Linked DNA regions of Homo sapiens. The protein of the gene in region 1 purifies or fractionates together with the protein of each later gene. This does not show direct contact. Each region holds a gene or a part of one and is shown in the gene's direction. Other genes may lie near its edges. The genes, in order: DNAJA3, CLPX and CAPRIN1.

Region 1 (3,652 bases):
TTAGAGACTCAGCACTTGCAGGGATAAACAGGTCCATCTTCTGGCGAACAGAGAGGGAACTGGGGGGGCTTGCAATTACTATGTGACTTTTTGAGTGAGAGACACAGTATGGCTCCTTGTTGTTCTTTTTTTTTTTTTCTTTTTTTGGAGACGGAGTCTCACTCTGTCACCCGGGCCGGAGTGCAGTGGCGTGATCTCGGCTCACTGCAACGCACTCTGCCTCTTGGGTTCAACCAATTCTGCCTCAGCCTCCCGAGTAGCTGGGACTACAGGTGCATGCCGCCCCTGGCTAATTTTTTGTATTTTAGTAGAGATGGGTTTCACCATGTTCGAGGCCGGTCTCGAACTCCTGAGCTCAGGCAATCCGCCTGCCTTGGCCTCCCAAAGTGCGGGGATTACAGGCGTGAGCCACTGTGCCCGGCCTTTTCTTTTTTGAGACTGGGTCTCACTCTGTTTTATGTAGCCTCCCTCACCCCTTCCCGGGGACCTGTGGCCCCAAACTTTGGACCTTTCACTAGCGAAGGCACCTTCTTACTTAGACTGAGGCCTTTACTCTTTTATGCACTGTGCGTGGCCTAGGTCTCTGAGCACATTAAAAATGAGCTCTACAATTAACATGCCAAGTTCAGGTCTATATTCTAACTCACAACAAAAGTGTGCACTCCTTGTCTAGTAGTTGGCAAATCTGTAACACGTTTGTGTGAGAAAGTACCTCTAGATGGTGTCAGCCTGGGCCCTAAAGAAATTGCAGCACAGCTTCCCTAGGTTGAGAGCATTTAGGTTAGGTGCCCCAAATGGGGACAACTTGCTCAGGGAGATAGACTGCTGATGTGAGGGATGAGATGGAGTGCCTGTGACAAAGGATTGTGCGTGGCCGTGACTCCCACATGGGCTGTTCTGCAGGGTCTTTGCGCACACAGCAGCATGGAATCTGGCCAGTTGGTCTAGAGTAGGGTTTTTCTTGGCAGTCATTATTTACCTTCTTATAGCCAACAGCATGGTGGTTGAGTCTCAGCTTTGGAGTCAGACTGCATGGGCTCGCACTCAGTCCTCCCTCCCGCTTGTTGGCTCTGTGGCCTTGGGTAAACCCTGTAACCTCTCTGTGCCTCCTTTTTTTGTTTTTTCATCTGTGAAATTTGCCTGTAAGGAAGTGTATGGCCTGGCCTGGGAGGTGCCTGGCACTTGACTGTGTTTTTGTCACTGTTGCTCAGATAGAGACAGCTGTCATAGTCCGTCTCTATTTCTTGTTTCCCTGCTGTGGGTCCTTGATTGAAAGAGCAGTTGGGAGACCCTCAGGCTCTGAGTGGCCTGTTCACCTCAGTCGTCTGCAAGGTGAGGCATCCTGTGCCATCTTAGGAGTGGCCCCCACTCTTCTTGAGGTGGCACTTGGCCGCTTCTTGAACGTGGGCCCCTGGGTGGCCAGGCGGGGGTAGGTGGGCCCTGGGATGTGACTGTGGAAGTGCAGGCCCATGACGCCAGTTCTTTCTGCTGTTTGTGCCCAGGTGGCAGCACCATGGATAGCTCCGCAGGAAGCAAGGCTAGGCGTGAGGCTGGGGAGGACGAGGAGGGATTCCTTTCCAAACTTAAGAAAATGTTTACCTCATGATATCCCAGCCGAGGTAGGAAAACCCTGGAGGTTTTTTTTCCCTTTGTTTTCCTCTGTGAACTAATCCTGGTTTTCTCCCACTTTAACCAATATTGTGCCCCCACCCCCAGGAGTTGGAACAGGTGCCAGTCCAAGGTGTGGTAAACCTAGCTCCACTAGGAGCTGGCCTCTCAGCCTAGGGAATAGATGACGTGGCAATCAGCCTGTAGTGCAGGACTGGCTGGGCTGCCGCGGCCAGCCTCTGGCTGTGTCTTCTTCCTGGGGAGGTGGCGATGCTGGGGCTGTTGTACAGCCCCCCTGCAGTGGTGGGTCCGGCTTGCCCATGGTCACAGAGGGCGAGTCAGGCAGAGCCAGGCCTAGAACTCAGATCTCCTCACGTCCTGCCTGCTTGGAAGCTGCCCTCCTGCGTGGACAGCGCAGGGCTGTGCAAGCCTGGGGGCTGCTCCAGGGGTAGCGCTTGCTCGCCGTGTCATCTTGGGACCCACTTTGGTTTATTATGCTCATCTCAGCAAGTGGGGTTCTCGCCCCTCTCTTGGCACAGCTGCTTTCCAGGGATTAACAGACGCTCCCCACAGGGGTGTGTTCCCTTGAAATGTTGAGTATAAGGTAACAGCCTATCTCTTTGGCTCAGGAAAAAGATCCACTGGAAACTAGGCCGGGAAGCAGCAGCCCCTCCAAGGGCCAGGGCACCTGGGAGACGGGAGGATTCCAGAACAGCAGCACTGAGCTCCCACCCGCAGAGCCTCTGGACGGCCTTGGCAACAGCAAAATCATGGGACAACACCTCTCTCCACGGAAAGGTCACAGTGGACAGCCCGGGCAGTAGGATGCAGCCCCAGAGGCTGGTGGCAGTTTCCTGTCCATTGGTAGGTGACGGCCCCTGGCTCAGGCAGAGGGAGATGGTTAGACTCTTGCAGGGCTAAAACTCTAATTTGGAATTGAATATTGTGGATATCTTAGTTAAAGGCCATGCTTACAGCTTAGAAATGAAGCCTTAAGCTGCATCAAGTTACGAAGTGATTAATTTCCTTCTCAGCAAACCTCCGGGAGGTTCCAGAATGAGTTCTTCCTGACAGGTTGTCTTCACTGGGAGCGTGGGGCCCCCAGGCCCCACCAGCACCGTCCTCCCCTAATGAGGGGCCCTGCCGAGGCATCAGCTGCTCTGCTCAGTTAGTTTTTATTCCCGGGGTACCAAGCAGCTGCACAGTCGGTGCCTGGGAGGCACGTAGAGGCCCAGAGAGTCCCTGGGGGTTCTGCTCTGACCGTGTGGGTGGTGATCCTTGTCAGGATGTACAGTCCTTGCTCCCACCCCATCCGGGATGGCCGCCTGTCCCTGACTATTGAGTCCTGTTGTTGTAAGCCAGGCATGGAGGGCTCCTGCCCTTCTGCTGAGCCACAGCCCATTGCAGCACTGTGCTGGCCAGACTTCAGCTGCCTTGGGAACTGAAGCCCTGCCACTGTTGCTAGTCAGGGGCTTGGTTCTCCCACTTACACTGTTGACATCTATTTTCTGAAGTGTGTTTAAATTATTCAGTGCTAATCATTGTTTTTTCCTTTGTAAATGTTGATTCAGAAAAGGAAAGCACAGGCTAAGCAGTTGAAGGTTCCCCACCATTCAGTGAGAGCAGAACCCCCATTCCCCAGCCTCTGCTGGTAGCATGTCGCAGTTTCCATGTGTTTCAGGATCTTCGGGCTGTCGTTAGACAGGTTAATGAAGAACACTTCTCAACAGTTTCCTTTTTGTTTTCCTTTATAATTCACTAAAATAAAGCATCTATTAGTGTCTGATTTAGGAATGTAAAATGATTCTGTATTAATGTAAATAAGATTATCTATTGCAAAAAGATATTTCAAACCTAAATTGTGGTCATTTCTTCTTTGAAAGAATTCAGACAGCCTCTGCAGGTGGCTTATGGGGGTTACAGGAGACTTGGCTGGCCTCATCCTGTGCTCACAGCCACCCAGAGCACATAGAGGCAGATGGGTCTGGGGTGCCGACAGTGCTGACCCTCACTTGGATTCCAGAGCAGGGTGCTTGCCATGACA
Region 2 (3,464 bases), on another chromosome or scaffold:
ATTTTCTATTATCGTGGCTTTCTTAGCTAGGAGAGGTTACTTTGCTGTTTTGATTTTAAAGATCATGTTTACCTCCATTTTTTATTTTAAAAAAACAAACATGGCTTTTCATTGTAGGGCTCCAACAAAAGAATCCTCTGAAGAGGAGTATGACTCTGGAGTTGAAGAAGAAGGATGGCCCCGCCAAGCAGATGCTGCAAACAGCTAAACTGTCATATTGCTGTCTTGTATATACAGCTTTTCCTTCTTTTGTTTAGGATCATAATTGTCTCTACAGTCTGATATTAAAGGCATTGGATCTATCTTGGATATCATACATGGTCAGAGAAGCCTTTAGGAGAAGAATCAGATCATGTATATAATTGTAACATCACATTGATTTTACGGAAGATGTTATATGGACTTTAATGACACAATGTTTAGAGATAAAATGTACATTATTTTGGTTCAGTTTTTTAAAAAAAATATGCTTTAACAAAATTCTTAGGAATTCTTTTAAGCAATGCAGGTATTGCGATAACTGTAGATTTTACAATAATGTTACTCTACAAATGGGAAAATAAATTCTTTAAAATTGAATATTGAGATACCATTCTTTAGTGTTACCTTTTTTACCCACATGTGTTTCTGAAAATATTGGAATTTTATTCATCTTAAAAATTGGACCAGGTAGGCCGGGCGTGGTGGCTCACGCCTGTAATCCCAGCACTTTGGGAGGCCAAGGCGGGTGGATCACGAGGTCAGGAGTTCAAGACCAGCCTGGCCAAGATGGTGAAACCCCATCTCTACTAAAAATATGAAAAATTAGCTGGGTGCCGTGGCAGGTGCCTGTAATCCCAGCTACTCGGGAGGCTGAGGCAGGAGAATCGCTTGAACTCGGAGGGCAGAGTTTACAGTGAGCTGAGGTTGTGCCACTGCACTCCAGCCTGGGCGACAAAGTGAGACTCCGTCTCAGGGCGAAAACAAAAAATTGGACCAGGTAGTTTTCAAGTAGTTAAACATTTCATTGAAAAATACCCTGAAGAACTATATTTTGATAATTGGTTTAGCTGTATTCCTAGTCTTATCTGCTAATGCATGACACTAACTTCCCAATTGGTTCTGTAAAAAAGGCCATTTTCTTACCAAGTTGTCTGATTTATTTACCATCTTTTTTTTTTTTTTTTTTTTAATTGAGCGGAGTCTCACGCTGTCCCAAGCTGAAGTGCAGTGGTGCGATCTTGGCTCACTGCAACCTCCGCCTCCCAGGTTCAAGCAATTTTCCTGCCTCAGCCTTCCAAGTAGCTGGGATTATAGGCACGCACCACCACACCTGGCTAATTTTTGTATTTTTAGTAGAGACAGGGTTTCACCCTGTTGGCCAGGCTAGTCTGTAACTCCTGACCTTGTGATCTGCTGGCCTCAGCCTCCCAAAGTGCTGGGATTGCAGGCGTAAGCCACCACACCCGGCCTTATTTACCATCTTTAATCCATTTTAGTACTATGGGTGAGTACATGGAATTGAAGTCTGGCTTAAATCTTCAGAAAGTTATATATCTATTTTATTTTATTTTTTTGAGACAGAGTCTCGCTGTGTCACCCAGGCTGGAGTACAGTGCCACAATCTTGGCTCACTGCAACCTCTGAGTCCCAGGTTCAAGCGATACTCATGCCTCAGCCTCCTGAGTAGCTGGGACTACAGGCGTGCACCACCACACCTGGCTAATTTTTTGTATTTTTAGTAGAGACGGGGTTTCGCCATGTTGCCCAGGCTGGTCTCTCCTGAGCTCAGGCAATCGGCCACCTTGGCCTCTGAAAGTGCTAGAATTACGGGCATGAGCCACCGCATCCAGCCAGAAAGATACATATCTAATTCTAGAAATAGCATGCAGTATCAGTCATAGTAACAGCCATGTGCTGACCTAAATAAAATTTCTTGATATTGTGTATTTAACCTGAAGTATTGAGCTAGTTTTTTTGTTTTGTTTTTTGGTGCTGAACATTTTGGTCTAATTCTTTGGCTTCTTAGAACATTTTAAAAAATCTATGTTTTGCTATCAGCCAAAGTAAATGTGTTCACACTAACATATAAGTTACTAACCTTCATTATACAGCAAAGCTAAAAAGTGGTGGGATATTTGGGGTCTTAATGAAAATTGTATCATTTAATTCCATAAATATTAAAATATTTGGGTACCTTTTAAGCTTTTTTTCTTTCCTTCTATAATGGTGGTACAAGTTCTATATTCATTCAGTTTAATCTCATTTGAAATTGTTTAAATCAGAGTACATGTAAATATTTGTGGGTTTTTTTTTTTGGTTTATAGACTCGAGCTTTCCTTTTACACAGTTTTTTTTAGGGAAAAACTAAAGCTATTAGGAAATTCTAAATCTTGTTGATGAAGAGTTGGGCTTTCTTTGATATAATTAATAAAAGGGATGTATGGTATTTATGGCTGGGTAGGACCAGAAATGCACTTTGTATTACAGAGTGTTAAGGCTGGTTGCTATAGTATGGAACAGAAACACCTCTCCTTGGTCTCCCTAGTAATGGTTCAAGTTCTTCCCAGGAAGTCTTACATATTATAACTTTGTTCATTATCTTTCCCTTATAGCATCATTTTCCTTTTTGTAGAGTGGAAATCAGACTAGCTGCTAAACATATTAAGGTTAATCCTCCAGAAATGTACTGGGGAGGCATTTTAGTCACAACAACTTACATTTGGCTTTGGAAGTTGTTAACAAAGCATAGTCGATGTTTTTAAATCAAACATAATTTGTATCTTGGAACTTACATTTTGACATTTGAATAAAACAAAAAGACTAAATGAAAGCCAACGTGGTGGTGTGTCCATACAGCAATGGTGCAGGAGCACTCTGCATTGACAACAACAAGCACAGCCAAACAGTGCCATTTTTAAAAGGGCACAGATGTCATATGAGCTGCTTCATTCTAGGGATTGATTAATCCTTGGCACTTCCATATCAGATAAATTCTAGCTGTAGATTCCACAGACAATGTCTGTTAAACATTTATCAAAAATCCTTACTTAAATGTCCCGCTTGACACTAGGGACACAGGCCAAGTTTTTCAGGAATCTTACTAGTCTTGTAGGGGAAACAAATACAAACTAAAGTGTATTTTAATAGTGGAAGTGAGATAGGTACCAGGTGTGGTGACATAGAAAGTGATGGCCTAGATAAGTCTGGAAGAACAAGTAGAAATTTGCCAGAAAAGAATAATGAGAACTAAATCAAAATCTCAGAAGTGTAAAACAACAACTAGGAAGCTGTAGGAGGTAAGAAATAAGCAACAACTGTAACTTCTTGTTAATACTCTGAAATGACCATTTAATATTCTCCTCTCCATCTAGCTAAGGATCTTGCTTCACATTTCATTGAAAAACCATTGATGGAATTCATCATCCCACCATCTATAAATCTATCTACTCCATCACTCAACCTTTCTCTCTAGTTACAACTGA
Region 3 (3,652 bases), on another chromosome or scaffold:
TTTAATTGGTTCCTTGGTTTCTTTCTTAGCTTATGAAAGAAAATAAGAATTTCATCAGTGTCCAAGTCTTCTGTTGGAATTCAGCAAATTTATTGTTGTGGATAGCTGTCAGCCTTTATTTTTATGTTTAGGTTCATTTTTCCTCTTGATGACTTTTTAAGTTTTTCTTAAGTCTTGCATTTTAAATAATGTATTATAATATAATAAGCCTTTTTTATTTAGAACTGAGAATTTCAGAAGACATAGTTTAGACATAATTCTAAAATTTAGTGCAGATTTCTCCATCTTAGAAGTACTTGTGGAGGGCTTTTATAACGAGACTTGGGTTTATTTAACGTCGAGCTTCAAAAATATATATATTTTTGCAATTTTTAGGTTTTATATTATACAAATTTAAAGAGAGATGGTAATATTAATTTCTCCCTTCTTTAGCAGTTGTATCTATTTCTTAGCCTTATGCGTCTTAGAGGTAACTTGTTTTTTTAACAGTCAATTTTGTAAGCAGGAAGAAGCTTTTATTTCTTTACTTATGTCTAGGTTCCTTTGGTATCATCCACAAGTGAGGGGTACACAGCATCTCAACCCTTGTACCAGCCTTCTCATGCTACAGAGCAACGACCACAGAAGGAACCAATTGATCAGATTCAGGCAAGTTCTGTTACCGGGTCACATACATTTGATGAGGCACTTACTCATGAATTGAACAGATGTACATTACCATTAATATAATGATTCTTCTTTTTGGACCTACTTTGCTTTCATGAAATATTTGAGTTTGTTAATACATATAAGTTTGAGATTAATTTACCACTTTAGTACATCTGTTCACTTTTTGTTTGGCTAAGTTTAGTTTACCGCTAAAGTGCATCTATTCACTTTGTGTTTAGGCAACAATCTCTTTAAATACAGACCAGACTACAGCATCATCATCCCTTCCTGCTGCGTCTCAGCCTCAAGTATTTCAGGCTGGGACAAGCAAACCTTTACATAGCAGTGGAATCAATGTAAATGCAGCTCCATTCCAATCCATGCAAACGGTAAGCAAATTAACTAACATTAATTGCCTAGTATGTAATATGAATCATGGTAGATTTTCTTTTCTTTTTTAAAGGTCTTCATTTAACTGTGCTTGAGTCTGCATCTTTCATTAACTGTAGGGTATATTTAATTGAACATAAACTGATTATTCCAGAGATTAACTGATACTAACGGATATTCTAGAGATAAATTTTAGCCTTATGAGTGATGTGCCTGTATCATCTTAATTTGTAGTTTTACCCTTTTGATTTGATTAACAAAAGCTTAAACATTCAGAGAAATAGACTAATATAACATCCATATAATCATTACCTAGATTTAATAGTTGCCCTGTTTGCTTAATCTTTTATTTTACTGAAGTATTTTGAAGTTTCAGATGTTATGCTTTACCTTGATTCTTGAGCAAGCACCTTTAGAGAATTTCTAGAAAATAATAATAATACTATAATCTGTGGGGTGCAGCTAAATCGGTGCTGAGAGGAAAGTTCATAAGATTAAATATTAAAATAACTTTTGATTAATATGTTAATAAAAATGAAAAAACATTCAACCCTGTTAAAGTTCATAGAACAAACTTCTGTAAGTGGTACTGCATCCAGGAGTTTGTCTTATTTATTTATTTTTTGAGACAAAGTCTTGCTCCGTCGCCCAGGCTGGAGTGTAGTGGCGTGATCTCAGCTCACTGCAATATCCGCCTCCTGGGTTCAAGCGATTCTCATGCCTCAGCCTTTGGAGTAGCTGACACTCCAGGCATAAGCCACCATGCCCAGCTAATTTTTGTATTTTTAGTAGAGACGGGGTTTCACCATGTTGGCCAGGCTGGTCTTGAACTTTTGGCTTCAGATGATCTGCCTGCCTCAGCCTCCCAAAGTGCTGGGATTACAGGTGTGAGCCACTGTGCCAGGCCAGAGTTTGTCTTTTAAAAAGATTTCTCATATATGTAAAAGCATTTCCAAGGCTGCTGATTGCATGTCTTTTTATTTTTTTTAATTCCCTACTTCCATTTCACAGCATATTATACTCCCCTTTAAGTACTATATGGTATATATGTCTTTTTCCACATTGAATCACTTGGAGGGATTTTTGTATGTGTGTGTGATGTTTTTGTGTTTGAGACCTCTGTGATGTCTTTATTTATGTCTGAGGTAAAACCACCATTGAGTTTGGCCATGTTATAAACCAGAGAATAAAAGGATGAACTAATCATTTACTTTATTTACTAACAGGTGTTCAATATGAATGCCCCAGTTCCTCCTGTTAATGAACCAGAAACTTTAAAACAGCAAAATCAGTACCAGGCCAGTTATAACCAGAGCTTTTCTAGTCAGCCTCACCAAGTAGAACAAACAGAGCTTCAGCAAGAACAGCTTCAAACAGGTACGAAATCCAGTGTCACCTCATTGGCTCCTTGCTTTCCAGCACAGTTATTGACAGTGTTAGGACAGTTTAGACTTCAGAGTGGTGGTGTCCAAGAGTTTCTGTTTTAGTAGCAGACCATATGAATTTTTCATTTCAGATCATGAGTTAAATTGAGTCTGTACTTGTATATGTGAATTATGTGCAATTTTTGGAGGCTTTATAGCCATTTTCCTTTTGTCACTGAACTTACATAATATCCCTGTTGCATTGTATAATTTATATGGAATTAAATTTGTTACTTGAATTACCATAAAGTGTACTTTTTTTTTTTTTTTTGAGATGGGGTCTCACTCTGTCACCCAGGCTGGAGCGCAGTGCCGTGATCTCGGCTTACTGCAACCTCTGCCTCCTGGACACAAGCAATCCTCCCTACCTCAGCCTCCCAAGTAGCTTGGGAATACACGCATGTGCCACCACGTCCAGCTAATTTTTTGTATTTTTGGTAAAGTTGGGGTTTCACCATGTTGCCCAGGCTTGTCTTGAACTTCTGAGCTCACGTGATCTGCCCACCTCAGCCTCCCAAAGTGCTGGAATTAAAGGCGTGAGCCATTGCACCTGGTGATAAACTATACTTTTAATTGTTAATTGATTGAAGGCTTTTAGCATGATATCTGGCATTGAGTCAGTTAGACAAAGTTAAGAAAAAACTCATGGTGGCTGCATTTCGTGGACTGGGTTGAAACATAATCTATTTTGTCAAGTAAGGTCATAATTTGGCTAGTTACCATACCTGTCACGATAGTAATGTAGGTAGGGACGCTTTTATGTATTTGAGACAGGTTCTCACTTTGTTGCCCGGGCTGGAGTGCAGTGATGCCAGCATAACTCACTGCAGCCTCAAACTCCTGGGCTCAATGATCCTCCTCCCTCAGCCTCCTGAGTAGTTGGTAGTTGGGACTACAGGTGCTTACCGCCATGGCTGGCTAATTTTTTTTTTTTTTTTGTAGAGATAGGGTCTCCAGGAGCTCACTATGATGCCAGGCTGATCTCCAACTCCTTGCCTTGAGCGAACTTATTGTCTCTGTCTCCCAGAGTGGTGGGATTATGGGCATGAACTACCTTGTCTAGCTCGATAGAGATACTTTAGATTTTTTTTTATATATATATTTTTTTAAGAAATGGGGTCTCTGTCTGTTGCCCAGGTTGGAGTGCAGTGGTGTAATCAGATACTGGAGCCTTTAACTCTGGGGCTCAA

What was found.
Region 2: the proteins of DNAJA3 (region 1) and CLPX purify together in Homo sapiens (affinity purification with mass spectrometry, with the first as the bait; one large-scale study listed by BioGRID). This does not show direct contact.
Region 3: the proteins of DNAJA3 (region 1) and CAPRIN1 purify together in Homo sapiens (affinity purification with mass spectrometry, with the first as the bait; one large-scale study listed by BioGRID). This does not show direct contact.

The regions. Positions count from the first base shown.
Region 1 is NC_000016.10:4,453,309-4,456,960, forward strand, and holds the end of DNAJA3 (dnaJ homolog subfamily A member 3, mitochondrial), read left to right. Parts: intron 1-1,502; coding exon 1,503-1,606; 3' UTR 1,607-1,619; exon of another isoform or gene 1,620-1,620; intron 1,621-2,237; coding exon of another isoform or gene 2,238-2,260; 3' UTR 2,261-3,467; downstream 3,468-3,652. UniProt on the Homo sapiens protein: Modulates apoptotic signal transduction or effector structures within the mitochondrial matrix. Affect cytochrome C release from the mitochondria and caspase 3 activation, but not caspase 8 activation.
Region 2 is NC_000015.10:65,147,567-65,151,030, reverse strand, and holds the end of CLPX (ATP-dependent clpX-like chaperone, mitochondrial precursor), read left to right. Parts: intron 1-117; coding exon 118-208; 3' UTR 209-2,812; downstream 2,813-3,464. UniProt on the Homo sapiens protein: ATP-dependent chaperone that functions as an unfoldase.
Region 3 is NC_000011.10:34,089,642-34,093,293, forward strand, and holds part of CAPRIN1 (caprin-1), read left to right. Parts: intron 1-537; coding exon 538-648; intron 649-887; coding exon 888-1,037; intron 1,038-2,264; coding exon 2,265-2,415; intron 2,416-3,652. UniProt on the Homo sapiens protein: mRNA-binding protein that acts as a regulator of mRNAs transport, translation and/or stability, and which is involved in neurogenesis, synaptic plasticity in neurons and cell proliferation and migration in multiple cell types.